Linked DNA regions of Homo sapiens: regions 2, 3 and 4 are each reported to be linked to region 1. The links are microRNA targets in miRTarBase. Many come from high-throughput screens and were not tested one by one. Region 1 holds a microRNA gene; each other region holds the end of a gene's coding sequence. Distances are from middle to middle.

Evidence for each region. The annotated mature microRNA hsa-miR-1226-3p reads UCACCAGCCCUGUGUUCCCUAG and lies in region 1 at 4,498-4,519, shown strand. An mRNA with a match to its seed (bases 2 to 7 or 8) in the 3' UTR can be bound and repressed. Matches are read on the target gene's strand: a 7mer-m8 pairs with bases 2 to 8, a 7mer-A1 pairs with bases 2 to 7 and ends in A, and an 8mer does both.
Region 2: the mRNA of MSANTD1 is a reported target of hsa-miR-1226-3p. Seed matches in the 3' UTR shown: 7mer-m8 at 6,211-6,217.
Region 3: the mRNA of PCYT1A is a reported target of hsa-miR-1226-3p. Seed matches in the 3' UTR shown: 7mer-m8 at 2,464-2,470.
Region 4: miRTarBase lists NDUFA10 as a target of hsa-miR-1226-3p. Seed matches in the 3' UTR shown: 7mer-m8 at 2,405-2,411.

The regions. Positions count from the first base shown.
Region 1 is chr3:47,845,111-47,852,110 of GRCh38, forward strand. It overlaps MIR1226 (microRNA 1226), which reads left to right and starts at 4,445; the gene lies at 4,445-4,519. It overlaps DHX30 (DExH-box helicase 30), which reads left to right. Exons shown (of 22, transcript NM_138615.3): 10 at 590-742; 11 at 1,055-1,891; 12 at 2,163-2,238; 13 at 2,322-2,426; 14 at 2,671-2,846; 15 at 3,070-3,276; 16 at 3,359-3,440; 17 at 3,514-3,707; 18 at 3,810-3,969; 19 at 4,082-4,239; 20 at 4,341-4,444; 21 at 4,520-4,659; 22 at 4,757-5,083. The coding sequence ends at 5,010. It overlaps MAP4 (microtubule associated protein 4), which reads right to left. Exons shown (of 21, transcript NM_001385682.1): 21 at 5,585-7,000. RefSeq lists a silencer at 2,061-2,162.
Region 2 is chr4:3,255,064-3,262,215 of GRCh38, reverse strand. It overlaps MSANTD1 (Myb/SANT DNA binding domain containing 1), which reads right to left. Exons shown (of 3, transcript NM_001042690.2): 3 at 5,603-6,491. The coding sequence ends at 6,251. Among named protein-coding and RNA genes, the nearest start is that of MSANTD1, 9.5 kb to the right of the region's middle.
Region 3 is chr3:196,232,227-196,239,378 of GRCh38, reverse strand. It overlaps PCYT1A (phosphate cytidylyltransferase 1A, choline), which reads left to right. Exons shown (of 9, transcript NM_001312673.2): 9 at 485-5,011. The coding sequence ends at 691. It overlaps SLC51A (solute carrier family 51 member A), which reads right to left. Exons shown (of 9, transcript NM_152672.6): 8 at 6,855-6,960; 9 at 5,952-6,316. The coding sequence ends at 6,180. Among named protein-coding and RNA genes, the nearest start is that of SLC51A, 19 kb to the right of the region's middle. RefSeq lists enhancers at 6,348-6,637, 6,758-6,827.
Region 4 is chr2:239,955,224-239,962,375 of GRCh38, reverse strand. It overlaps NDUFA10 (NADH:ubiquinone oxidoreductase subunit A10), which reads left to right. Exons shown (of 10, transcript NM_004544.4): 10 at 1,190-5,004. The coding sequence ends at 1,258. Among named protein-coding and RNA genes, the nearest start is that of MIR4786, 16 kb to the right of the region's middle. RefSeq lists enhancers at 4,960-5,880, 5,881-6,801.

The DNA.
Region 1 (7,000 bases):
GGTTTCTCCTCAGGGCCTTCTCCAGACGTAGGGCTGTTCTGCTGTGACACATCAGGTTTAGCTTTTCTTGAATTAACTTTATTATTATTTTCTTTGAGACAGAGTCTCGCTCTGTCGCCCAGGCTGGAGTGCACCGTCATGATCTCGGCTCACTGCAACCTGTGTCTCCAGGGTTCAGGCGATTCTCGTGCCTCAGCCTCCCTAGTAGCTGGGACTATAGGTGCCGGCCCCCCACCTGGCTAATTTTTGTATTTTTAGTAGAGATGGGGTTTCACCATGTTAGCCAGGCTGGTCTCGAACCCCTGACCTCAGGTGATTTGCCTGCCTCGGCCTCCCAAAGTGCTGGGATTACAGGCGTGAGCCACCGCGCCCGGCCTGAATTAACTTTAGTTCATTTTTTAAAACGTTTATTTTGGTAAGTTAACATTTTCCTAGTTCATAATTTCTCCCTCCATCACCATGTCAGCCAAAATCCAAAATCTCTTAGAGATTACTTGGCACAACTTATGCGTTGGAGCTCCTGAGCTTGTCTGGGCTGGTTTTTGGGGAGCCCCAGAGCATAGACTGAGTCTTGCATGTCCCCCTGCAGAGCCTGGGCCTGGTGGACAGGAACAACGAACCGCTTACACACGCCATGTATAACCTGGCCTCTTTGCGTGAGCTGGGTGAGACCCAGCGCCGACCATGCACCATCCAGGTGCCCGAGCCCATCCTCCGCAAGATAGAGACCTTCCTGAACCATGTAAGAGGCCCTGCATCCCTCACCACCCCTGCTCCCTGTAGTCTGCCTCCATCTCTCCAGACTGAAGGCCTCCACCTGCGACAGGCAGTAGTACCTCCCCATTCTCTTCACTGAGTTTGGGGCCTGGGATCCCCCTGGCCTGAACAGCCCAGTCTTGCCCACAAGGATCCCGGGGCAGTCATGGACTAAATTAATCCTCTGCCCAGCGGGTTGGGCCACAACATCTGACCCAGGCGAATCCTGCAGAGTGGCTGGTTGTGTGTGAATGAGGAATTTCTTTTTCATTGTTTTGCTTGCCTCCCTGCCCTCCAGTACCCTGTGGAGAGTTCATGGATCGCCCCAGAACTCCGGCTGCAGAGTGATGACATCTTGCCCTTGGGCAAGGACTCAGGGCCTCTGAGTGACCCTATCACAGGCAAGCCCTATGTGCCCCTGTTGGAAGCAGAGGAGGTACGTCTCAGCCAGAGTCTGCTAGAACTGTGGCGGCGGCGAGGGCCGGTCTGGCAGGAGGCCCCCCAGCTACCTGTGGACCCACATCGGGACACCATCCTCAACGCCATTGAGCAGCACCCGGTGGTGGTCATCTCTGGGGACACGGGCTGTGGGAAGACCACGCGCATCCCCCAGCTGTTGCTGGAGCGCTATGTGACCGAGGGCCGAGGTGCCCGCTGCAATGTTATCATCACCCAACCTCGCCGCATCTCTGCTGTGTCTGTGGCACAGCGGGTCAGCCACGAACTGGGCCCCTCCCTGCGCCGGAATGTGGGCTTCCAGGTGCGGTTGGAAAGTAAGCCCCCATCCCGAGGCGGGGCCCTGCTCTTCTGCACTGTGGGTATCCTGCTGCGTAAGCTGCAGAGCAACCCCAGCCTGGAGGGCGTGAGCCACGTCATCGTGGATGAGGTGCATGAGCGGGACGTGAACACAGACTTTCTGCTGATCCTGCTCAAGGGCCTGCAGCGGCTCAACCCGGCCCTGCGGCTGGTGCTCATGAGTGCCACAGGGGACAATGAGCGCTTCTCCCGATACTTTGGTGGCTGCCCCGTCATCAAGGTGCCTGGCTTCATGTACCCAGTCAAGGAGCACTACCTAGAGGACATCCTGGCCAAGTTGGGCAAGCACCAGTACCTGCACCGGCACCGGCACCATGAGGTGAGGGACACCCCCATCCCACCCAAGGCTCCTGGCCTTTCCTCCGTGGATGCCCCTCCTCCCTGGCCCTGGGGCTTGGTGCCTGGGGCAAGTTACCCTCCCCAGTCCTCGGTTTCCTTGATAGAAACTGGGGACTAACCCTGCCTGCGTGGCACACGTGAGGATTGGAGTTGATGTCAAGCGGCTCCGTCTCACTGAGTCAGGTGGCTGTGTCCTTGGCATGACCCCTTACCCCGGGGCTGTGACTGTGGCCTCTCTTCCCCCACCCCAGTCTGAGGATGAATGCGCACTCGATTTGGACCTTGTGACTGATCTGGTTCTGCACATCGATGCTCGCGGGGAACCAGGTGGGTGCCTCCCCATCTGTCCCATGCTAGCCCTGGCCACGTTTGCAGCAACAGCTGGCTCATGCCCCAGGGCTCCTTTACAGGTGGGATCCTGTGCTTCCTGCCTGGGTGGCAGGAGATCAAAGGAGTGCAGCAGCGCCTCCAGGAGGCCCTGGGCATGCACGAGAGCAAGTACCTCATCCTGCCAGGTGAGAGCCCCGGCGGAGGGACCAGGGACCTTTGGAAACCAGCCTGACCTCTGTCCTAGGGACTGACCCAACTGGGACTCCAGGGGCCCCGGTTTCTGACCAAGCTGTGGCACTTTTCACTGGGCATAGTGTTTATCTGCGCCTGTTTCATCAAAATGGGGTCAAAATCCTTGCCCTGCCCACATTCCAGGGGGGAATTCTGGTGGAAGCAGTGCCCATAACTGGTGTGTGTCTTGCCCACCAGTGCACTCCAACATCCCCATGATGGATCAGAAGGCCATATTCCAGCAGCCTCCAGTTGGGGTGCGCAAGATTGTCTTGGCCACCAACATTGCTGAGACTTCCATCACAATCAATGACATCGTGCATGTGGTGGACAGTGGGCTGCACAAGGAAGAACGCTATGACCTGAAGACCAAGGTGGCACCTACCTCCTGGGCCCGGCCAACCACTGGGGGAGGGACTCCGTTTTGAGGTGGTCCCCAGCCCAGATCTACCTTAGACCTGCTTTGTGTGTCTTCAGAAGGCCGCGCTTGTGGGGTCTCAGTGTTCCTGATGTAGGGGGCTGGTGAGGGTTACTCAGGGAGTGGGGAAGCACTGAGGAAGTGGCATTTGTGTGCTGCTTACTTGCCACCTCCTCCAGGTGTCCTGCCTGGAGACAGTGTGGGTATCAAGAGCCAATGTGATCCAGCGCCGGGGCCGGGCGGGCCGCTGCCAGTCCGGCTTTGCCTACCACTTGTTCCCTCGAAGCCGGCTGGAGAAAATGGTCCCTTTCCAAGTGCCAGAGATCCTGCGCACACCTCTTGAGAACCTGGTGCTGCAAGCGAAAATCCACATGCCTGAGAAGACGGTGCGGCGGGGCGGGGCAGGGGCTGGCCTGGGGACCAGGCAGGTGGGAGGCAGGCTCATGGCGGGCTCTGGCTCTGTCATAGGCGGTGGAGTTCCTGTCCAAGGCTGTGGACAGTCCAAACATCAAGGCAGTGGACGAGGCTGTGATCTTGCTCCAGGAGATCGGTATGTAGGGGCTGGGCTGGGCTGGGCTGGGGAGTGGCTCTCGAGGGTGGTACTGACAGCTGAGCCGTTGCAGGGGTGCTGGACCAGCGGGAGTACCTGACTACCCTGGGGCAGCGCCTGGCTCACATCTCCACCGACCCCCGGTTGGCCAAGGCCATTGTGTTGGCTGCCATCTTCCGTTGCCTGCACCCACTACTGGTGGTCGTTTCCTGCCTCACCCGGGACCCCTTCAGCAGCAGCCTACAGAACCGGGCAGAGGTGGACAAGGTCAGTCCTGGCTCCTTCCTGGAGCCGTCCACCCACTGCTGTTCTGAGGGGGCGTTGTCTAGCCCCTGCCTGTGATCCGGCTGCCCTCTTCTCCCCTCCCAGGTGAAAGCACTGTTGAGCCATGACAGCGGCAGTGACCACCTGGCCTTTGTGCGGGCTGTCGCCGGCTGGGAGGAGGTGCTGCGTTGGCAGGACCGCAGCTCCCGGGAGAATTACCTGGAGGAAAACCTGCTGTACGCACCCAGCCTGCGCTTCATCCACGGTCAGTCGGGCCCACACCTGCTCTCCTGAGCCCCTCCCACCCCCACTGAGTTTCTGTCACCTCCAGCCTGTGGCTAGGGGCTGTAGGTCCACCACACATTCTGTCTCCCTAGGACTCATCAAGCAGTTCTCAGAGAACATTTATGAGGCCTTCCTGGTGGGGAAGCCCTCGGACTGCACCCTGGCCTCCGCCCAGTGCAACGAGTACAGTGAGGAGGAGGAGCTGGTGAAGGGCGTGCTGATGGCCGGCCTCTACCCCAACCTCATCCAGGTGCTGCCTCTGGGAGGGAATGGAGTTCACCAGGTCCCAGCCTCCTTCCCTGTCTGCAGCTCCTTGCTCAGCCCCACCCGTCTTTTCCTCCATCCCTGCAGGTGAGGCAGGGCAAGGTCACCCGGCAGGGGAAGTTCAAGCCCAACAGCGTCACATATAGGACCAAATCAGGCAACATCCTGCTGCACAAGTCGACCATTAACAGGTGAGGGCATGCAGGCCTGGATGGGGCAGCTGGGATGGTCCAAAAGGGTGGCCTCACCAGCCCTGTGTTCCCTAGGGAGGCCACACGGTTACGGAGCCGATGGCTGACGTATTTCATGGCAGTCAAGTCCAATGGCAGCGTCTTCGTCCGGGACTCCTCTCAGGTGCACCCGCTAGCTGTGCTGCTGCTGACCGACGGGGACGTGCACATCCGTGGTGGGTGCCTGCAGGCCTCCCGCCCACCCCGCTCTGCAGCTGCTCCTCCGGGGCCTGGCCTCACCACAGTTCCCCACCATCTTTTCCATTCCCTCAGATGACGGGCGCCGGGCCACCATCTCACTGAGCGACAGTGACCTGCTGCGGCTGGAGGGTGACTCGCGTACCGTGCGGCTGCTGAAGGAGCTGCGGCGGGCCCTGGGCCGCATGGTGGAGCGGAGCCTGCGCAGCGAGCTGGCTGCACTTCCCCCCAGCGTACAGGAGGAGCACGGGCAGCTGCTTGCGCTACTGGCAGAGCTGCTGCGAGGACCCTGTGGCAGCTTTGATGTGCGCAAGACAGCTGACGACTGAGCCCTGCTTCTGCTGGGGCTGTGTACAGAGTGCAAATGTTTATTTAAAATAAAGTTCTATTTATCCCTTGTGACCACTGCTGTCCACTAGGGGCTCCTCTCTCAGGGCCTCCATACACTGGGCCACGGTTCCCCAAAGAGGAAGGAGGAAGGTAGGTAGAGAAGAGAGTGAGATGCTTATTGCTGGGGAACGGGCTGGCTGTGGCCCCAAGTCTTTTAAGAGAGAAGGGGGTTGGAACCTCCTCCCTTCACCAAGAAAGAGCATGAAGCAGCGGTGCTGTTAACCACCCCAGTCCCCTGGCACAGCTGCTGCTCTCGGTACCCACCACAGGAAGCCTGTCAGAACTGTCACTGTCCTTGTAGTTTTGGACAGTAAGTAAGCAAGTAAGTGTCAAGTAGCCCTTTATCAGGCAGACTAGGGGAGAGTTCCACAGGTAGCCAAGGCGCAGGGCTATGTGGCACAGTGGTCCTTCCCGTGTCCACATCCACAAGTTCACAGCTGAGGGGCTGAGCTGAGGGCAGGAAGATCCAGGGAGGTGGTAGATGCAAAACGAGACAGAAGCACGAAGCCTGCGTGATGGGACATCAGGCAGCTTTATTTATTTACTCTTAAAACTGTTACAACAGAATCATGGACTGACACAGGTAATGGCTGAGCCATAAGCAAATCGAGAAGTACAGAAATGTCCCACCCCAAACAGCTGCGGAGTACACATCACACAGGGCCTCTGGTCCCGGCCTTCTCAGGTGCTCTGGAGTGGAGGATCCTTTGAGGGAACTCTGACCACTCCTGTTGTCTACCTAGAGAGCACGCCACTTGGGCCACCTACCCCCAACCTTTGGCCAAAGGAGTGAAAGGACCTGGAACCTGTCGTCAACCTCAGCATCCTCATGACCCCAGGACAGACGCAGTGGAGGCAGCAGGTACTCTGGGCCTGTGCTGTTGCCCCTGAGGTGTCTCCTGACTACGCAACCCTGTTTCCTTCCCACTTTCATCCCAGCAGGCCCTTTCTTCCTGCTGACAAAACACTGGCTCCCTCATGTTCTTGGCACAGCAGAAGTGTTCTGCACATGGTCTCTACGGAGGAAAGCTGGTCCCCCTGGCCCAGGCAGCACTTCCTCCGTGAGCCCCTGCAGTTTCCTGGTGTGTGCTTGGGGAGCTAGGGACATGGTGTCAAACCTCCACAAGGCACTGCTACCTCAGAAAGGGGGAGGACCTGTCAGGCCCAGGACAGCCTCCCTGCACATGGAGATCAAATCTAAACTTAGGTCAAGACCCCTACCTTCTCCAGGGATGCCAGGACCAGAGAAGGGCAGAGGTCAGGAGGGGGCATGAGGAGGCCAAGTCTGGGGCAGCCTCCTCAGAGGCAAATCTACACTGCAGCCAATCCCCCTCCAGAGAAGCCCTTGGAATCTCCCAGGCCATTTCACTACAAACTTATGTTTGAATCCTTTATTAGAAACCATGCAAACTTTAATACAAAAAATACAAGTGCAATAAGAATCTTTGTGTCAATACAGTTCCCGGGATTTCTCCTCACTGCAGCCATCCCAAGGCCTAGCTGGGATGCCCTCTGTGGGCCTTGCCTCTCCTCCCTCCCCTCTCCAGTCAGGGCATAAGGGAAGCAGATAGCCTTAGTCTCATGCCTTTTATTTTTAAATTTCCAGACCTGATTTCCTACTATCTGCATGAGGCTCCCTTGGACATGAGGGCTTACATGTCCTAGGGTGTGGGTGCCGGCCTGAAGGAATTCCATCTCCTGGCCCTTTCTTGTTCTCCAGCCCTGGCTTTTTATCCTAGGGCTGACCACCAGATCCCAGGGAATGGGACAGAGATGCCAAAACCAGCCTCTTGGTTAGAAAAGAAAAGCAGCATACACACAACAAAATGGCAAAACCAACCAGTCCACGCTCCAAGGGCCCCTTGTGTGCCTGACCGGCTCACCAGCCACAGCCTCTGCACCCCTCTTCCCTGCCGCACCGCCTCCAGG
Region 2 (7,152 bases), not on the chromosome of region 1:
TCCCTGTCCAGGCCCACCTCGCCCTCAGAGCCAGCTCCCACCTAGACAGTGCAGCTCCCAGTGCTCAGGTGAGGGCGCCCCTCCCACTCCATCCGCTCACATGACATTTTTTGAAGGCCTTTTCTCTCACCCCACGGCTCCAATCCCCCTACAGCCTTATTTCCCTGGAAAGCACCTCTCTTCTAACATACTAGACACTTACGTGTTTATTGTTGGTCTAGCCCCACCCTCAACTCGAAACCCTGTAAAGACAAAGATTTGTATCTGCTTTCCACCTGACCCTATCCCCAGTGCCTACAAGACAGCAGGGAGTCCCTCTGGGCCCGCTTGGGGGCACGGTTCCCACACGCTGTCTGTGATGACGCCACCCAGTCACACGGAGGGCCCCTTTGTGTGACAGCGCCCGTGCGTCCACCAATCGCCAGTGAGCCAGCTCTGGGTACCGGGCAAGGACAGACGAGGCTCGCTCAGGTCACCTGTGTGCCCGCTCCAGCATTCAGGCAGTGGTTCTCAGGTCTCGGCCTGTGGGTCACCAAGGGTCCCTGAGGTTGCAGCTGCTTTCATCATAGTCTGATGATCACGGGGTCTTCACGGGGTCTTCACGGAGCTGACATGCGCACTGATGTGGCAAGACCTGAGCAGGAACGCAGGCAGGCCCCGAGCCCCGGCGCAGCCCTGAGGGGTTTTCGCACCGCACAGCTGCAGTGTGAAACGCCGGTCACTTCCAAATGTCCGTGATGGAGTGAAAATGGTCGAGTGTGTGAGGTCTTGACCCCTGGGTCCACATCTTTTCAACGTCCTGCCCGAGCAACTGGAAGGCGCGCCTGCCCCACGTCCACGCTGAGGAAATGCAGGTGTGCAATGGGCTGAGCTGCCGTCTGGATCTGGAACACACGTATGGAGCACACTTTTTACTCAAAAAAAGGATGTGCAAAAACTCTGGTTGTTCAGCCTTGGGTGTCCTGGCAGACTTTTTTTTTTTGGAAAACGAACAAAGTGAGCCTGTCTCATTCAAAGAAAATAGCTGACAGCATTTGTTACCAATGATAAAATTCAAGCTTTCATGCAAAAATCAGAATTCTGAAAGACACCACCATGAGTTCACCACCTTTCCAACTGAAAGACTTTTCTAAGATTGGTGATATCGCCAAAAGTGATTTTAAAATACTGATTAAGGAACTGTGTCAGCATTTGGAATATCCGCATAACTTAGTGAACCAAAGGCCCAGCGTGTGAGGTCACAAAGGCATGATGGACAGAGTCCTTGAAGCACAAGACGGACCAATGGATTCTCCTGAAATGAAGTAGAAGTTCATTGATAGGGTATCAGATTCCACACACAACCGGCCAGTAAAAAACCACCACCTGTCGGCCGGGCTAACACCTGTAATTCCAGCACTTTGGGAGGCCGAGGCGGGTGGATCACGATGTCAGGAGATTGAGACCATCCTGGCTAACACAGTGAAACCCCATCTCTACTAAAAATACAAAAAATTAGCCAGGTGTGGTGGCGGGCGCCTGTAGTCCCAGCTACTCAGGAGGCTGAGGCAGGAGAATGGCGTGAACCCGGGAGGCAGAGCTTGCAGTGAACCCAGGAGGCGGAGCTTGCAGTGAGCTGAAATCGCGCCACTGCACTCCAGCCTGAGTGACAGAGCGGGACTCCGTCTCCAAAAAAAAAAAACAAACCACCACCTGTCCAGTGTTGGAATAGGATCACGGAAGAATATACCGATTATTTGCAAAGGTTATTAAAATGTTCCTTTTCTTTTCAAATACACATCTGGGTAAGAATGAGCTTCTCCATTCACTCCTATACTTCACAACCAAAACACCCCCAAAGTGGACGGACCCAGAGCCTGCTGAGAGGCCAGTGGGCTTCTCTTAAGCCAGAGATTTACGACCATGTAAAACTATGCCACACTTCTCCCGAAAACTTTTTGTTTTGGAAAATATATTTTTCATACAATTGTTATTTATGTTAATATGTCATGGGTTTATTGCTATTTTGAAATGAATACATGTTTTCTAAAGGTCTCAGGTTTAATTTCTAATAAGATATTCTAATGTGTATTAATATTGGTCATTAGAACTCACATAAGCAAAAGTTCTTTGGCACTTTTAATGAATTTTATTTTATTTTATTTTTATTTATTTATTTATTATTTTTTTTTGAGACAGAGTCTCGCTCTGCTGCCCAGGCTGGAGTGCAGTGGAGTGATCTCAGCTCACTGCAAGCTCCACCTCCTGGGTTCACGCCATTCTCCTGGCTCAGCCTCCCAAGTAGCTGGGACTACAGGCGCCCGCCACCACGCCCGGCTAATTTTTTGTATTTTTAGTAGAGACGGGGTTTCACCGTGTTAGCCAGGATGATCTCAATGTCCTGACCTCGTGATCCGCCTGTCTTGGCCTCCCAAAGTGCTGGGATTACAGGTGTGAGCCACCGCACCTGGCCCACTTTTAATGATTTTTAAGAGCGTTGAGGGGTCCTCAGACCAGTTTGAGGACGGCTGCCGCAGGGTGGCCTGTCTAGGAGTGGCACTGACCAGAGGAAATGCGTTTCTTCAGCTTTAGGACGGGACACCAAATTGCTCCTGGAAGCGGCTGCACCACATCCCACCAGCAACGCAGGAGTCTCCATTTCCCGACGTTCGTCCTGGCCTCCAGCAGCCACATGATCTCAGTCTGCGGTTCCAACTCCCCGACTCCGAGGGAGGCCGAGCGGTCTTCTCACGCTGACTGGCCTTGGACTTTTGGCCCCGTTCTTTTTTCATATGAATTTAAACATCATCGCGTCCATGTCAAAACCAAGAAGTGATATTATTGAGACTATGTTTGGAATGACATTAATAAAATGATGACATTGACTTTGGAGCTTTCAGGAGTGTGCGAAGTTTCTCCAGCGCTCAGGTATTATTTAGATTTTTCAGTAAGACTGCATAGTTCTCTTCAGTAGAGGTCCTGTTCCTTCTGGGTTAAATTCATTCCAACTCTGAATGGGATATTTCTTCATCCTCATTTTCAACAAGTTTAAGCTGGTTTAAAGAGCTCCCAGTCTTTTGTACATTTGGCTTTCTGGGTATACAAAAATGAAATCTGAAAACAAAGGTAACTCTACTTTCTTCATTTCTTATCCTGCTTATTTTATTTATCTTTTTTTAATTTTTTTTTTTTTTTGAGACCGAGTTTCACTGTCACCCAGGCTGGAGTGCAGTGGTGCAATCTCAGCTCACTGCAACCTCCGCCTCCCGGGTTCAAGCGATTCTCCTGCCTCAGCCTCCCAAGTAGCTGGGATTACAGGCATGCACCACCACGCCCAGCTAATTTTGTATTTTTAGTAATGACGAGGTTTCTCCATGTTGGTCAGGCTGGTCTTGAACTCCTGACCTCAGAGGATCCTCCCGCCTCAGCCTCCCAAAGTGCTGGGATTACAGGCGTGAACCACCGTGCCCGGCTTTTGTTTATTTATCTTAATGCATTAGCTAAAAACGTCAAAACAACATGAAATACTACAGGTGAAAAGCAAGCACATCTGCCTGGCTCCTGATTCTAGTTTTCAATGTTAACATGCTGCTTTGCTGAATCTTATCAAATATTTTAGCAATGGCTGAGATCATTTTTTTTCTCCTTAATGGACCAACAACTAAGGAAGAAATCAGAAAGTTGTTAAGGACATGCTGCTGATGAAAGGCACCAACCCCACGATATTCTACAGCTGAGTTCTGCTGACATGAGGCGATGCTGCTCCAGCCTGGAGAAGGTCGGGCAGCGCCTGCCCCTTCTCTAAGGTGATGGAAGGGCATGAATCACTGACTCTGATTAGAGAGGGCGAGAAGAAAACAGACCAAACCACTTCTAACCCAAGCACAGCAGCGACTCGCGGTGTGCTGTCCCGGATGCCTGGCAGTTACTGAAGTACCGGTGCGTCATGGCTGACTCTACAGCAGTTTCAGGGTGAAGAAGTTGCTACATCATTTAGAACCTCCATCTGTTATGTCTTGTGGGAGCGTCCAGCCTAACCTTCCTGCCAGGGCCGCGGGCACCCTTCCCTCTCGAGGGCTTGTGACTGGCTCCCTGTTAGGAGGCTGGGGAACCCCACACTGGCCCCATGGGAGCTGCTAGCCAGCCTCAGTGGTCAGCAGCTGGGGGCAGGTGCCTGTGTCATGGCTGGGTTCCCAGCATCTAGGGTGGCACAGGTGTCCAGTTGGAGCCCAGTGTGTTTGTTAAGCAAATGATTTCTTGGGTGGTGTCTTGCCTACGAGGCGGGTGGGTCCCGGAGCTGGAAACTGGCTAGAGCAAAAGCTCCCAAAACTCAGGCCCGCATCAGATGTGCCCGCATCCTCTGTCCTCCTGGGGCCACCCTTCCTTCTGCTTCTCGGCAGGTGCTATGGCAGCCACACTGGCTTGCAAGAGCTGGCTCTGTGCATCTCTTCTCAACCACAGGGTCAGCGGCGTCATCTGGCAGCTGGAAACTGGCACCGTAGCGCTGGCTGCTGCTCCCTCCTCCCACCACTGCCGCCGCTCCTTACACCCTCACGACACTCTGCCTCTCATCCCACAGCAACATGGGCCGAGTCCTCGGCACACAGGCTCTGGGGAGATGGCTGAGGAGGGTGGGAGCTCCAGGACCCTCAGAGTGAAGTGAATCCTGCTTGCCCAGCTCCCCTTTGGGCTCCACAGAACACGCCGGCCTCTCCTTCACACAGGCAGGCCGAGGGCACCCTCCACACCACCATGGTCCACAGGCTGGTCCCACACCCAGTGGAGTCCAAGCTGCTCTCTTGCCTGGCTGACCTCAAGACCCCCTAGAGGGTAGGATGAGCTGCTGCTGCTTGTCGCAGGATGACTGCAGCACTGCCTGGCAGGATGCCTGCTGCCACACCTGCCTCTGCACCTGTCTCCACGGCCTGCTCGCTTGGCAGCCAGAGGGAGATTTTTCTGAACCCTGAGTCAAACCATGCTGTTCACCTGCTGACCCACCTGCCAACAACCTTCTATTTGGGCAGCAACTTGCCTAATTCCAGGAGGTGACTCAAACACACCTGGCCCCAGCCTCCTTTGCAGCCAGGGCAACCAGACGCCCGAGTCCCGGCCAAGGAGGCTCATAGAGAATTCAGCTTTGGGAAAGCTGGAGCTTCTAGAAAGAGTTTGAAACTGGTGGAAGGGCCGGCAGTGAGGTGAGCTTGCAGCTGTGGCCGCTCCACCACCCCTCTGTCCCCCACCGATGTCAGACCCAGAGCTGCACTGGCCAAAAGACTCCCACTAAGCTTGAAAAGCATGAACACTCCTCCCCACGGGCTGCACGGGCTTCCGTGGCCTGGCTGCTGGCCACCAGCCTCCTAGCTGCTCCTGGGCTTGCTCCAGTGTCCTCTGCCTCTGGGCCTTCGCACTGGCCGTTCCCTGTGTGGCCACTGTTCCCAGCTCCACGTATGTCTGCCTCCGTGTCCTCAGGCCAACCCCTCCCTTCCAGCACTTATCACAACCTGCAACCATTTCTCTACTGACCCATGTGTCTTCCCCGCATGGGAGCATAAGCTCCAAGAGGCCAGGGCCTTTGTGTCATCCACCATGATATCTCCAGCACCCAGAACACTCAACAGGGCTGTGCATGTGAACAGGTGTTACGACTTTTATTAGTGTCATTGCTAAGGAGGCAGTGGAAACACCTGATGCTCCAAACAGAGCTGAATAAAAGCCTCCTGGAAGGTCGCTGGGGTTTTCATCAGGCGTCAGAGGCCATTTAAGGAGAGACGCAGAGGTCCTGGTGAGGGAGGACACAGGGTTCCCTTCAGGAGAGAGCTCCCCCAGCTCCAGCCTGCCCCAACCCGTTTCCATCTGCTTTCATTTTCGGGATCCATCAATCAGGGCATCCTCACCAAGCCAGCAACAGCAAACTGTGCGTTCCAGGCAAGAATGAAAAAGTATACGTTTAATATCAAAGCCACGTCAAGTATCATTGATAGTAACGACACTGGAGAGTGGCTCTAGGACGTTCTTACTCGGAGTGAACCCCAGAGGCCCTGGCCTGTGTCCGAGGAAGGGCATTCATGCTGGAGACTGGAGCCTCACGGTCCCCAGGGCCTGGGGGTTCCTCAAAATACCCCTCAGAAGGGACATCCTGCCAGAGGCCAGGTGGAAGGCGGTCTCCGCTCGCGGGGCGGCCCCCTTGCCCGCCTGGCCTGAGTGGCCTGCCCTGGGTGGCCTGAGCAGTACCACCAGCCGCCCGGCCCCGCCGCCGCCGCCGCCTGCTGGCCTAGACGCTGGACTTGGTGATGATCCTCTCCAGCAGACTCATCATGCGCTCCTGCAGCTGCAGGCTCTGCACCTGCAGGATGTGCTGCTGGTCCAGCACGCGGCGCACCTCGCGGCAGGTCTCCTCCACGGCGCGGCTCAGCCGGCGCTGCTCCTCCACCATGGCCTCCAGCAGCCGCAGCTGCTTCTTCTGCAGGTGGCAGCTCTGCACCTTGCGCTTCTTCACCGGCCGCTCCTCCGACCTGGAAGGACAGTGCCGGCTGTGGACGTGCTGGCCACAGAGCCTGGGCACACCAGGGGCCTCACCGGACCCTCCCGACAATCCTACTGGGCAAATGGGGAAACTGAGGCCCCAGGGAGTCAGGTCACTTACTCAGGGTCTCATATTCCATGTGCAAAGGAGGGGCCAGAACCCACCGCCTTTGACAGAAAGTAACAGGGGTGGCCGGGTGTGGAGGCTTATGCCTGTAATCCCAGCACTTTGGGAGGCAGAGGCAGGTGGATCACCTGAGGTCAGGAGTTCAAGACCAGCCTGGCCAACATGGTGAAACCCCATCTCTACTAAAAATACAAAAATTAGCCAGGCGTTGTGGCGGGTGCCTGTAATCCCAGCTACTCGGGAGGCTGAGGCAGGAGAATCGCTTGAACCCACGAGGCGGAGGTTGCAGTGAGCCAAGATCGCGCCACTGCTCTCTGCACAAGAGCGAGACTCCGTCTCAAAAAAAAAAAAAAAGAAAAAGAAAGAAAGAGAGGCCACAGGCATTGCCGTCCTTTGCGACTAGCGGATGACCCCAATGACCAGGGTCCCAGGACAATCCACACCCCTTCGGTCTGGAAAGGGTGGGATGTTCTGGGCTGCAGAGGGGCATATCCTGCCAGGGAGCACCCTTCACCCACCAAACT
Region 3 (7,152 bases), 150 Mb from region 1:
AAAGACGTTACACATTCTCCTAGATAATTTTGCCAGCTCTCTCTCAACCTTAAAGTCTGGTGACAAGATAAGCAAGTCGCCTTGCCCAGCTTTTATCTGTGGTATGATTTTAGATAGAAGGAAAGGAAAGAATAAAGAACAATAAAAAGAAAGCAGCCTCCACTACAAGTAGCTGCAGCAGGAACCCCAGGTAAGGTGGGAATTCTGTCTTTGAGGAGTAGCAGTCTTTTCAACCAAATAAAAGATTGAGCAAGTGAGTCCTAGGTTAGATATCAGGAAGGATCTGTCTGTGAAGGTGTTTGGATAAATTAGAATAATCCTAGACTAGATTATTGAGGAAGAATGGGGAATTTCCCGGGTGATGACAGCAGGGGAGAACCCTTAAATAAATAGTACAGCATAGACTATCCCAGTCCTAGATGCTTCAGTGATGATTAAGTAGGATCCACGGTGTTTTTCTGACTCTTCCTTTCGGTTTCTGCAGAAACATATGCTGAAAGAGGGGAAGGGCCGGATGCTGCAGGCCATCAGCCCGAAGCAGAGCCCCAGCAGCAGCCCTACTCGCGAGCGCTCCCCCTCCCCCTCTTTCCGATGGCCCTTCTCCGGCAAGACTTCCCCACCTTGCTCCCCAGCAAATCTCTCCAGGCACAAGGCTGCAGCCTATGATATCAGTGAGGATGAAGAAGACTAATGTTTCCTCCCTCCTTTCCTGTCCTCCCTTTCTGTCCCATTACCTTCAGAAGCTCTCTGTTGAATTCCAAATTGTGACCCCAACACTAAACCTAAGGACAGCTACAAAGGAAAGACAACTGGGGAAAGAAGACCTAGGACTGGGGGAACCCAAACAGCCTGTCCTGCAAGTGACATCACTCACCCACACGAAGGAGGGGGACTGCACCTTAGAAGCCTGCTCTGCATCCATTTACCCCCCCCCAAGGGCTTTGTTTCACTGTTTATGTTCACGTGATCTCAACAGGGAAATTGTCATTTTCATTAATTTTTTAAAAAATTCGTCTTTCAAATGTAGAACTAATTTTTTGCCCCTGAGGAGTGGGCAGAAGAAGGAGGTAGTGTAATACGCAGAGGCCTTTTCTTCCCGGTATACTATAGCATTTGCCTTCCGTTCTGAAGCTATGTGGCTTGCCAAGTCCTTCACGAAATGAGCCACGCTGATGGGTAATTTGTGGAGAAATATCTTAATTTTGATTTCCTTAAGGAAAAGCGAAAAGCAGAGTTACAGTCACAAATCCCCTGAACGTACTGCTGTCACCAGTGTCATTGTGGCTGCGGGAAGGAGATCTGAACCTAACTTTTCTTACTCCCTGAGGAGTTTCTTGTTGGACCCAATGGGGTCCATGAAGACACTGATGGGGATGGAAGCAGACCCATGGCATCAACTGCAGTGTTTCTGCTGTGTTCATCTTCTCAGAAAACTCTGTGACCCAGTTCTTTGGGAGCTTTTGTCAGTCTCTTTCGTGCCATCTACCTTCGAAGGAAGGAACACTTTTAGAGTTACAATGATGAGGAGAGGAGCGGGACAATACTCAATCCTATACCAAGTCGATTGAGATTAGTTTCCTACTGGGAGTAAGTGCCTGGCCCTGCTACTCCTATTTGAATGCTATTAATATTACCTAGCCTTTTACAAAGGATACTTTGTAAATGTCTGCTGTTGGAACTTGATGTTAATCCATTTTGGTCATAGCCATATTAGAGAGATTTGCACAGAATGTAAAGGCAAAAGCATAGGAAACACCTTCCTTTCTAAAGCAACAGCCTTATCACCTTGACCTCTGTCCCTCTTCAGAACATTCTTCCCTGGAACCAGTGCTCCACATCTTTCTTTTCCTCTGAGAGCTGCAGCTGGCAGGGACCTCCCTCTGCTGCTCCTCCAGCAAGCCACAGAGCATACCCTCACGTGACAAGAGTGTGGTAGGTTTTCTCCCCACTTTTCACACACGCCTGGTGGTTGTGGTTCCATCTGCCTTGTTGGCTTGCCCGGGGGGATTCAACACTTGACTTTCAAATCAAAGAATGCTAATGCTTAGCACTTGCTGTTGAGCATGCTCTAACTTTTAAAGCCCTGGCCTCCTGTCTCCTTAGCTGCTTAGCTACGCGGCCTAGCAGATCATCACCCATCAGTAATCCTGTGGCTAGATCCAGGGGAAAATTGCTTATGTCCAGGCCCCACCCCTGTCACTCATAAATACCCCTTGTGGGGGTGGAATTTTAGTGTTTTCAGCTAAGAAAACCACATTTTCTCTTTCCTTGCCTCTGCTAGGACTGTGAGCATCTCATAGTCCACTCCCTAAACACTTTCTGGTAACACCTAGTTTTCCGCCTGAGGGTCAGAGGCTAGAATCATTGCCTGCACAGCAGGACTACCTTGGTTCTTAAAACTTGGATCACCCAGGCAAGGCGTGGTGGCTCACGCCTGTCATCTCAGCACTTTGGGAGACTGAGGCTGGTGGATCACTTGAGGCCACGAGTTTGAGACCAGCCTGACCAACGTGGTGAAACCCCATCTCTACTAAAAATACAAAAATTAGCCAGGCGTGGTGGTGGGCACCTGTAATCCCAGCTACTTGGGAGGCTGAGGCAGGAGAATCCCTTGAACCCAGGAGGCGGAGGTTGCAGTGAGCAGAGATGGTGCCGCTGCAGTCCAGCCTGGGTGACAGAGCGAGACTCTGTCTCCAAAACAAAACAAAAACCACACACACATACAGAAATAAAGAGAAATAATCAACTAGAAAAAAAACAAAACTTGGATCACCCAGAAAGAGCGTCACAGAGGCGAGGGAGAATGAAGCCTCTTGTTATCCTGATCGCCTATGACAACGACATTTCTAACTCTTCTTTGAAGCGCAGTTCTTACTCTTAAATCTGGTCATACAAGCTTTGGCTTGGAATCCTGTCTGTCTTTGAAACAGCTGAAGTTAGTGTTTTCCTGTGTTACCCAGTGTTACATAGTCTCATCTTTGAACTTTTCTGCGTCAGCCTTCTCTCTTTGGGAATGCTGCCTGTTTCTGTCTAACTTATTCTCCCTGGTGTGGTGTGGCAGTGAAGTCTGTGCTGAAGCCCATCTGCTTGGTTCCTCCAAGTGCACATTATGCAAGTGTATTTGGATAGACAGGGAGATGCCCGGAACGTGGTTTTCCTCCTCCCTCCCTATTGGAGCCATACCTCCTAAATATATTGTCTGGGTCCCAAATGTTTGAGCCCTCTTCCTCTGCTCTCAGTGGGCTGCTCTTGGCATGCCCTGTGCTTGGAACGGGACCTGCAGGCTGACAGGCCTCTGAGACTGCTAGGGCCAGCAAACGTACATGTTATTGGGAAACTCCCTTTCCCCTTTTGGTGAGCTTCTACCACCTCAGTCTAATCGTTTTGACTGAAAGCTATTTGTCTGACTGAAAGCTAAAATCTTTTATAGTGTGGCCTGTTAGATACTTTGGGGTAAATGTGGTCTGAGGTGCTGGACTAGCACGGGTAGATGGAGAAAGCTGTTGGGAAGTTGCATAATGTGGTCATCTGTGCCTAATTAAATGAGGTTAGAGGTGTGCACACCACCACAATGCCTGGGATCTAAATCTTCAGATATTAACGTTTGAGGCTATGGAGCTGTTTCCCTGAATCACACACGAGAAAGCAGTCAACATGGGTGGGCCAAATGTGGCCAAGATGAGAGAGCCAGAAGTGTTGGCCTTAGAGCAGAGCCTCTGTGTGTGAGACATTAGAAGGCCAGAGCCGGGGAGGTGCCGGCGCAGCCACTGCCTTCCGGTGGGCCGGACGGAAAGCTTGGTCTTATGCTAGATTCAGAAGCACTGAAGAATGGAGGTTGACACTTTAGAGGACTAGGAAGGGATCATTTGTGCTCTTGCAGCTATTGCTGATAGCTAGAGCCAAAGACCATTATATTGCTGAGGCTTGGGTAAGAAAGTTAGGGATGTGAGGAGGTTGAAAATCCTGAAGAAGAGAAAAAATATGAGGGAGGCTAAGGAAACTTAGCCACTTTCTGATCACTGATGACTCCTTAGGCTGCACCTGAGTGATGGTGGTGTTTTTGGAGGCTGTACCTGAGTGATGGTGGTTTTTGGGGGGCTGCACCTGAGCGATAGTGATTTTTTTTTGGAGGCTGCACAGCTGGTCAGACCATCTCTAGATGTTCTTTCCACAGTGGTTCATAGGGCGTCATTCCCCCTTCCTGGATTATTTTGACTATGGGTAGCTTATTTTCAAGAGCTCTTTGCCTTTTTAATCCTGTTCCAGATCACTTATCCAAAATCTTTCCAAATCAATTATATTTTGCTGCTTTTCTTTAATTCCCTAAAAGCCATAGCTTCTAGATTTTCTATCAGCACACATTCTCACCAGAAGTTGAACCAATACAGGTAGAAAAAGAAAGCCCCCTTAATGTTTTTAACTGATGATATTTTTTTAAGCTTACCAATATAAGTATTTTTAAAGGTTCTATTTTTCAAAGTCATAACAATGATTGTTCTTGTTTTCTCTCATAGAATAGACTGCCATCGGATAAAGAGTGGTCCCTAGCTTCTATTTTTCCAAGTAAATAAGTAGAACATGTTCTTGGGATTATACCATTAAATGTTAATTTTCTTGAAGAAGAAAGATTGTTGTCTGCCAAGATTTTATGTTAGCGCTCGGATTGAGGCAGAAAACGGAAGCACCAGGTTTAACACTGGGATGACTTGGGTTGTGTTCCTGGAGGTTTGAAGTGGGCCTTCCCGCCTTTTGAGGGGGAAAACTGACTGTTTTGAACACATATCCTGGATTAGTTGGGTTGTTTTGTATTGAGGATCCCTAAAAGACAAAAGAGTCTTGGAAAGGACTGCTGGCTTCGTCTTGAACGTTCGCCCCATCACCAGTGTGAGTCCGTGGGGAAGTCTTCCTCAAGTGGGGTTCAGTCTGTAATTTTCCTGTCTGTTCTTAGTTTGTTCTGAGTTATTTTGGATTTTGTTCTTTAGCCAAATAAAGGCAGTGTGGTTTTACCTGATGTTCCATGTCCAGTGGTGTTTTTATTTTTTATTTTTATTTTTTTTGAGACGGAGTTTTGCTCTTCTTGCCCAGGCTGGAGTGCAGTGGCGCAATCTCGGCTCACTGCAGCCTCCGCCTCCCAGGTTCAAGCGATTCTCCTGCTTCAGCCTGCCAAGTAGCTGGGATTACAGGCATGCGCCACCACGCCTGGCTAATTAGTGTTTTTAGTAGAGATGGGGTTTCTCCATGTTGAGCAGGCTGGTCTCGAATTCCTGACCTCAGGTGAGCCACCTGCCTCGGCCTCCCAAAGTGCTGGGATTACAGGCGTGAGCCCCCGCGCCCGGCCGTGTCCTGTGTTTTGACCTGTGTGGTGCATTTTATGGATTTGGGACTTTTACTTGGACTCTCGGTGCCTTTGCTTCCACGTGCTGACTCTCTCCTTAGAAATCAAGCTCCATGACCACAGTGTCAGGAGATTCCTTTTCTAGCTTGTCACTGAAGACTCAAAAGCCATTGTCCCACAAAGTGAGGCTGACCCAGACCACCAGGGCCCCGCGTGGTTGGTGCCGTAGTAGCACACCTGTCAGGGAAAGGTCACCTTCCATCTGTTCTCCAGGGCCCCTGGCTTCTTCAAGACTCTGGGCTGGTGCTATTTCACCTCACCAAGTTCTCCTTTTCTTATGCCAGACACAATACTATATACTCTTCTTTTCATCTGCTTTAGGAAAGCTCAGTAAGCTTTCTTTTTTTTCCAGAGGCAGGGTCTGGCTGTATCACCCAGGCTGGAGTGTATGGCACAACCATTGCTCACTGCAGCCTCAACCTCCTGGGCTCAAGTGATCCTCCCGCCTCAGGCTCCCAAAGTGCTGGGATAGCAGGCATGAGCTGTCGCACCTAGCCAGCAATATACAACCTTGAAGGGTTAATAGTGACATGGACAGAGGCAAGGTGCCCAGTTACACATTTTCAGACATCATCTTGTTTATTACAAAACTTAAAACACCTTCCAGGCAAGATCCAAAGCAATTTTATTCTAACATTGTTCACCTTCATCTGTAGAGTCAAATGTATCTGCCAGCTTGTGTTGACAAGGGGGAATGCTTCCCATTTGGTCAAGGTTGAGGGACAGTAAAGGAATCTTGTATTCTAATGAGTACAGCATCCTTTCATTGTCCAAGCCATCCACCTTAGGCTTTGAGGTTCAAGTCCAGGTCTGGAGAAGAGAAAGTTTCATACCCAACCTTGTGGTCTTTCCTTCGGTAGTACATTCGTGTCAGCACAGTCATTAGAAAAGTCTCCAGTATGAGGAGGTGGCAATTCATCACTGCAGTGTAGGGTGAAATACAGCGTAGGTTATGCTGAGTTACAGAGGTGGTATTTTACTAGCAGCCCGGGCACGGGAGTTGAGCAACACTTTCTCCAGTTTATCCCCAAATCAGGACTTAGGGATACGAAATTGTCATAAATAACACAGCGGGTTAATGGTAGAGCCAGAACCGGAAGTTGGCTGTCTACTTCTGTGCTCTGAGGCTGGCATACAGTCCATTTCTTATGTGTGTTCAATCAACATGGGCTTCTGTTTTTTAACCATTCCCATTCCTCTCCCAGGAGCTGAGGACTGAACCCATGGCTTCCTGGGTTGGCCCTCAGGGCTGGCCTCAAGCTGTGGGGTTTCACTTCTCTTCTGTGTGATCAGAGAGGTCATAGTTTCCTTAAAGCCTCTGTTGGGATTTCCCGAAGATCCCTTCTGAACACTCTGAGCAGAAGTCAGGCTGGCCTAATGTCTGTTCTGGGGCCCCTTCTTTCCTGACTCTCCCCGTCTCATCCATCCCACGATGGGACAGGAGGCTTAACGTGCTCACCTTGAGACCTGGTTTTAGAGGAATAGGGAGGCGAACAAGCAATCTGCCCACCGTTGGCCAAGACTGAGAAGATGGAGGGCTGTAGGGCAGTCAGGATGAGGAGAACCTGCGGAACATAAAAGAGAGGCAAGGGTGGACTGGGCCTGCCCTCACGGCACAGAACGCAGCCAGCCCACTGCCGGGCCTTGCCCTTCCGCTGGGCAGGTTCCACCCACCGTCAGATCTGTGCAGTCACAGAGGGTTGAGGCTCTCACTTCATTAAAAATCTGTGGGATTTTCATCTTTAGGCAAATGACAT
Region 4 (7,152 bases), not on the chromosome of region 1:
TTCAGTGATTTGTGATCCAGGCAGCCATGGCTGTGTGGATGGCTGTGAATGCCTGCTGCTGATTAGGATAAAGGAAAAGCTGATTCTTTTAAAAATGGTTTTAGTACCTGTTCTTAAGGGCAGAATTTGGAAGGGGTGTGTGTGTGTGTGTGTGTGTGTGTGTGTACACAAATTGACTGTGTGCCCATGCTGATTTGAAAATATGAAAAAACTCATCATTTTCCCACCTGCCATCGCTGGGCGACACACACCGTGCTGAGCGCTTTCTCCTGGCTCCGCAACGAGGTGGTCCTGCGGAGCAACACTCCTCTTTCCGTCTCAGCCAGCCCTGTGCTGGCCGCCTACCCTCATGAACAGGCGTCTTTGTGCTGGCAGGGGCTCTTGTTGCCCCCCAGATCTCCCTGTGCCCTGTGAGGTTGGCCTCTGTGGACCGCCACCTGAGCCCCTGATCTCTCCCAGATGGTGGGAGAAGTGGGGCCTGTAACATCCTTTCTGCAGCTCCATCACTGCCAAGCTCAGCCCCCCACTGGCCTCTCTGGCAGCATCCGCTCCTCCTGGGCTCTGTCGTCCTGTCGCTCCTGGATGTTCAGTGGCTCCCGCTAGGGTCAGTCCTGCAGTGCTTCCCCCTCCTTTGCTGGTTTTCCTGAACCCTGCCCATGTCTACTTAAAAGGCCTGGATGAAACTCACTTTCCTACTCCGCCAAGGGCCCCTTACAGCCAGCGGCCCGGCCTCTGCAGGCCCTCTTCAGAGGGAATTTCACGCGGGGCTTTTTCAGAGAGAACTCGGTGTTTCAGTTGGTGAACTGTGGTTCCTGGGTCCCAGCCCCACCCCTGTGTCTGCGTGGCTGTCCCTGCTCAGGGCCTCCCCTAAGTGCCACCCATTGCTCTCTGTCCCCCTCCTGTGGCTCTTGTCACCCTCCTGACATTAATGAGAACACTCAGTAGTTCGTTTCCATTTGTGGCTCCCAGCCCTAGGACAGAAGCTTCTGGCAGGCAGGGCTGGGTTGTGGTTTGTGTACCTGTGGCATCCTTGCACTCACAGGAGACACCTGCCACAGATCATGTGCTCACCAGCATTGCTGAAGGAACTCATGAAGTACAGGCATCTGCCGGGTAGACATTGAACTATGAGCTGGGGAAACATTCATTCACGTTAAACAGAATGCACCAATGCCTTTTTCCCCCACAGCTGCCGGGCCGCAAGTACAGCCCTGGGTACAACACCGAGGTGGGAGACAAGTGGATCTGGCTGAAGTGAACGGGCCGCCTTCTGCTCCAGCTGCATCACAGTGATGGCCAAGCTGCATCAGCCGCACTCTCCTGGACGCCATATAGCTTTAAGATCGGGGGAGGGTAAATAATGCAAAAATTGCACAGTGGAAGAAGGGGTCTCACAAAAAGCAATCCATCCTGTAGTATAGGTAATGGAGTTGGGGGAAGCAGCTTCCATTCTGGATGTTTGGAACCCTTTAGCTTTGTTTTGGAATGGCCCACCATTCTCACTGGAAAACAGTGGTCTGCTGTGAAAGGCCAGCTCTCGGCAGCCCCTGTGGTTTCAGCGCTGCCGCTCTGTGTCATTCAGGTTGTGCACATTGTTTTTCTTCTGACTTCCAGAAATAAAAGTGTTTCCATGGGAATTTCCCCATCGTACGTCTATGTGCGTGCGGGCACGTCGAAACTGCACACGTGCACACACGCTGCTCTGGGCCCTGTTTGGTGTGGTGTGGTTTAATTGAGGCTTACATTATGCTGAAGAGTTTTTCTAAAGGCCTACTGTATTTATTTTAGTAATGTGCTACATTAGAGTAGAAAAAATAAGAACGTGAAGAAGAAATAGCAAAAGGAGAAAATTACCACAGATTTACAGAACAATATGTTTTAAGAGAGACGTTGAGAAAGATTCACGTGGCCGTCCTCAGCGTCTCAAACTCCTTTGAAGGGAGATTTGAGCTTAGGCTGTTGATGACATAAGATGCAAAAGCAAAATAATATACTCTCTTTATTACCCAGAAAATCAAGTTGCCAGTCAAAACTGAGAAATGAGAAAGAAAATCAGATTTCTTTATTCATCTCTGTTGAAGCCTAGAAAACCAAAACAAGCTGGTTGTGGTTCAGCATCATGGTTTAGGAATCAAGCTGTCAGTTGTGAGTCCTACTGAACTGTGGGTTTTCCACTGTAAAGCTCCACTGTGTCCATTAGGAATCAGGCTGCCAGTTGTGAGTCCTACTGAACTGTGGGTTTTCCACTGTAAAGCTCCACTGTGTCCAATATGGTAGCTCCTAGCCACATGTGGGTATTGAAATTTAAATGAGCTAAAATGTAATAGAGTTTAAAATTGGGTTCCTTGGTTGCACTGGCCATAGTTCAGGCACTCCACAGCCGCCTGTGGGCAGTAGTTCCAGTGCTGGTGCAGAGGACGATGCTCTGCTCCCCGCGGAAGCTCTACCAGGCCTCGCTGCTGCGGAGCATGCGAAGAAGATGCACACTCCTTCCCTCCTTGCGTCCGCCTGCCTTTTTCCCTCTCCCCTTCCTTCCCTCCTTCTTTCCTCCTCCTTCCCTCCCTTCCTTTCTTCCTTCCATCTGTCCTTGTTTTCCTCCCTTCCCTTCCTCCCTGCCTCTTTCCTTCCCTCCTTCTCTTCCTTCCTTCCGTCTGTCCTTGTTTTCCTCCCTGCCTCTTTCCTTCCCTCCTTCTCTTCCTTCCTTCCTTCCGTCTGTCCTTGTTTTCCTCCCTTCCCTTCCTCCCTGCCTCCTTCCTTGTTTTAAGAATTTGAAAATAAAGTTTCCCAGGAGTTTTGAATTGGAGTCGAGATTTAAGTGGCTGAAGTTTTGCATTTCACTAGGAAACCAACAGCTTTAATCATGAAATGAAAGCACAGCTGGGCATTGGGCCAGTCACAGAGTGTCTTTTGCTCTGAGCACTTCACAAACCCATTGTGGAGGGGAGGAAAGAAAAAGAAAGCCATCTTTAATTATCTTAGCTGTTCCTAATGTCTTTGGCTGCAAAGAGCTAGCTGTTTCCTTCAACCTTGGTGGTTGCACGGGTAGTGTCCTCAGCAGTGAGAGGGCAGGTCTGCCCTGTGGTCAGGATTGCCCTTGTGAGGGGCAGAGCTCTCCAACCATGCAGGGCTCCGTGTCGGCATGGTGTGGACTCGGGTGCTCTGATCATCCCCTGTGTTTGCGTCTGACCCTGTGTGGTTGCATTCCCTTGATGGAGTGGGAAGTATGTAATTTGTAGTGCTGAGGACATTCGTCTGTTTGATTTTCTGGTGTTTTCAATGACATGCATGTTCAGCAGAGAAAGATGAATAAACACTGTCCAATTCTTCTCTCCACATAGAAGCCTCAAGAAGAGGTGAGGAGATGCCCCGATTTCCTTATTTCAGAGCAGTACATGCGTTCGTCTCACGAAAGCTCTTACAACTAAAACAACAGCACCAACAAACCAGGATCAAAATAATCGTGCATTTTCCAGGATTCCATGTTGGACTTCTCAGTGCTTTGGAGATCAGGAAATAATCATGCTGTTGCAGCAGTATGGTTTTGTGTCTGGATTTTATTCATACAGGCATGTGTTTACAGGCATGAGAATTCTGTATTGAAAAGAAAGTCCTTGTTTTTTTCTAACGTATCTTTCTGTTCCATCAACTGTTAAAACCAAATTGTTAAGAACATTGAGCTTCTTAGGAGAGATTACATGCAGCTACTTAGGACCACCTCAGCAAAATGGAGTTGCCTGGGTAGATAGCAGCAGCAGCTCACCAGCCCCACGCTGCCAGGCTGCTGGCTGCTGTCCACCAGGCAGCTGTGGAACCTCCATGTTCTGCCTAGGTGTTGTGGCAAGAACAGCAGGGAAACAGGCGGCCGCCTCCAGGCCACAGGTGGACCCAGGGACCTTCAGTTACGCCGCTTCAATTGAATTCGTGGTGGTTTCTCTGCTACAGCAGAAGTGGAAGAAGCTCTTGTCTTGTTTGGCATTTGTCCCATTTTTTGGCTAATAATTGGCTTTGAATTTCTCTGTGCCCTGCTTACCAATTATAGCTTTCTGGATTGGCTGTTCTTAGCAGTGCAAATGTCAATGCAAAGAAGCAAGCAGGCGGCTACTTTCTGGGAAGAAGCATAGTCCGTGCTCACACTGGATATAAATCTGCAAGATTTGGGGGTTTGGCAAAATAGGGGTGGAGGGAAAGCTGCCATGGCTGTCAGAAATTGGGGCTTTTTGAAGAAAAGCTTGTGTAGGCATCAGCCACTGGCTGGCCAGAATTCCATGAATGGAAGCAGGTGCCCGAGTGATCTGGGGCTTTACATGTGGATATAAATAGAAGCCGGGAGCCTGAGGCTTTGCTTTAGGAAAATCATGAGCCAGAAAACAGAGGAGGTGATTGTCAGTAGTCACCTCACGCCGCTAGTGTTTTCTAATACTCTCTCGAATTGTCAAAGCAAAGGACCTTATAACAGCAACACGTGTGTGACTCGAAGCAGCGAGCTTCCCTTGGGAAAAGGAGCCTCTTCTCAGCAGAGGGTCCCAGCCTTTCTGTCCTTCCCCATCGGAATGCCAGGCTCTGTGAGTTTGGATGTTGGACATTGCCACCTGAATTCCAGGAGGCCGGGGAGCTCCAGTGATGGACTTGTCCCCAAAAGAGTGGTGCTGTTCTCAGAGCCATAAATGTTCCACTGAAAGTGTCTGTCCCCTGGCTCACGCTGGCTGCGCTTGCTTGAAGGAGGCTGATTTAAGGGTTCTAATAGGAAGACAAATGAAACTGTCAAATTTTATCTTTAAGCATGTGAGTAAGTTTGCTCATTCGCTTTTACTATTGATGTATAGTTTTAAAATTCTTAATTTAAAAATTATTTTAATAGTAAATTTTTCACAAGTGAACACTTTTTATCTTTAAATTAAAATTCTGAAGCTCCCTAGTTAGTTAGATCCAATTGCTGGTTACATTTTGGGAAGCTCTCATTTTAGTGCTATGTAGTTTCATTGAATAAACATGTTTTTAATGAGACTATACCTGGTGATTATATTAAAAATCCCAGCTTTTAATTTGTAAAAAGCTGTTTCCTCTGGCATGTTACGCGTGGTCATGTGGGTTTTCTTACAGTGAACGTTGATGGGGCCTCCTGCATCCCGGGCAGCATCTCAGCGCTGGACACGTGGCAGTGAGAGCAGAAATGCTAGCAGTGGCTGAGGGGCGAGGCCCAGGTGGAAGCCCCTGATGCAGGGTTGTGCATGTGCAGAATCTGAAAGCTGTGAGACTTGGCGAGCCCGCAGTGGAGGGGGGTGTCTGAGCCGCAAGGAGGGTCTGGCCTGAGCTGCAGGGCACCCCCCAGAGCCCACTGTAGGTGTTGGAGGGCTGAGGAGAGTGCAGAGGGCCTGGGAGGCGAGGGAAGGAGTGAGGCGGCCAGGCTGGGTCAGGTGCTCCACACGCGTCAGGGAGAGGAGGACCTGCAGTGACTGTCGACATGACTTTGGCAAGCTCTGTGTCCGCAGAGCTGGAGCTGAGCTGGCTGGGGCAGGAGTCACAGTGTGGGAATTAAGGAAAAAACAAGCAGGTAGGGTAGAGAGCCGGACTACCATCAAAGCATGAGTTTTCTGCTGCCCGGCTCCGCCGTGACGCCACTCCTCCCACCAGAACGAGCGCGTTTGTCTCCACACTCTCCCCTGCTTGTCATTGAGCTTTGTTCGGTTTAGGAAGCACGAACAGAAAGGTGGCTGTGACAGGCAGTGGGCTGGAAAGTGCATTTCCACTGGTCTGCCCTCTCCTGGGACAAGGTGAGCTTGGTGCTTAGCACTGGGCCGTCCCGACTCCAGGAGCAACGCCAGTCCTCCAAGCACGGGAGGCTTTTCCTCCTCTCAGTATTGCAGCAGGCAGCGCACAGCCCTTCTGTCCAAATCTGGGAACCTGAAAGACCTTCGGAATCTTGCTGTTTTAGACGTTGTAAGAGGAGCGGGTAGGACCCCACGTGCTCAGGCCCCACGCTTTGGATCTACCCCCTCTGCAGCCAGAGGGACAAGCAGCTGCTGTGCTGGTCATGGCCTCATCCCGTGTGTGACGATGGCCACTCACGTCTTCTCATTCAACAGAAGTTATCACCGTGCGTCAGACTTTTATTTGGATTTTGTGCGTCTTGCATGTATGGTGGGGATGACCGGCCCCACCTCCAAGTGTAGGCGCTGGAGCCCCTGGGGACGCAGCGCTGCTTGTTCCTGACAGATGGGTTGCACCCGTGGGAGGGGTCCAGATGTGCTAGCTCTTGGGAGTCAGTGATGGGTGTACCGGGAATGGCCTGGCGTGCATTTCCATTCAGAAACTCCCAGTCCCTGCCTGGAACCTGGCTCCTTTTGCTGTTTTTTTCCCCCTTTCCTGTCCCTTTCCTGGGTGGCTGGTCCCTGCTGTCGCCCCTGCCTCCCTGGCTGCAGAGCTTTCCTCTGGAGGACTCGACACAGAGCCTGCGCCGTCTCTGACTCCGGGCTCTGCTGCCCTGCCCCACTTTGGTCTCTCAGGTTGGAGTTGAGGTTGCATCTGCTGAGAGCCGTGCCCACAGGTGAGGTAGTATCAGGGTCCTGAGCCAGAGTCCACTGTCCCCTGGCCGTGGGTTTGGAGCTGCCAGCCATCCTTCCCTGAGAACCCAGCCTATGACTCGGCTCCCCTTGGGCCTGCCCTATCTTTCCTTCCTGCCCTGGTCTGTCCTGCGGCCCCCTCAGTCCTCATGGCCAAGTCAGCCAACAGCAACCCACACACAGAGGCCACTTCTGGATGGGTGTCTGGCAAGGTGTGGGTCTGAATTCAGCCTTTTGCCTCGCGTGCCAACCCCCGTGTCCTGGGCTCTCCAAGAGCCACCTTAGGAAGATGGGGAGTGGGTCTGGACCACTGAGCAACTGGTCATTCTGCATCAGCTCCTGAAAGTCCCTTGTGGACCAGCTCCCTGATGAGGACAAGCTCTTAGCTCAGAACAACACAGAATCCAGCGCTGACCATAGGACGGCTGTCTAATGGTCCTTCTCTAGAAACCTCTCTGTGCCATTCTGAAAGTGGAAAATGCCGGCATTGGTCATGCGACCTTGCATAGCTGTCTATTTTCATGGTCTCTCCACCCACTCTGGCCCCTTCATGTTTTGTGGAGAGAATAGCAGACCTCGCCCCCCGCCCCAG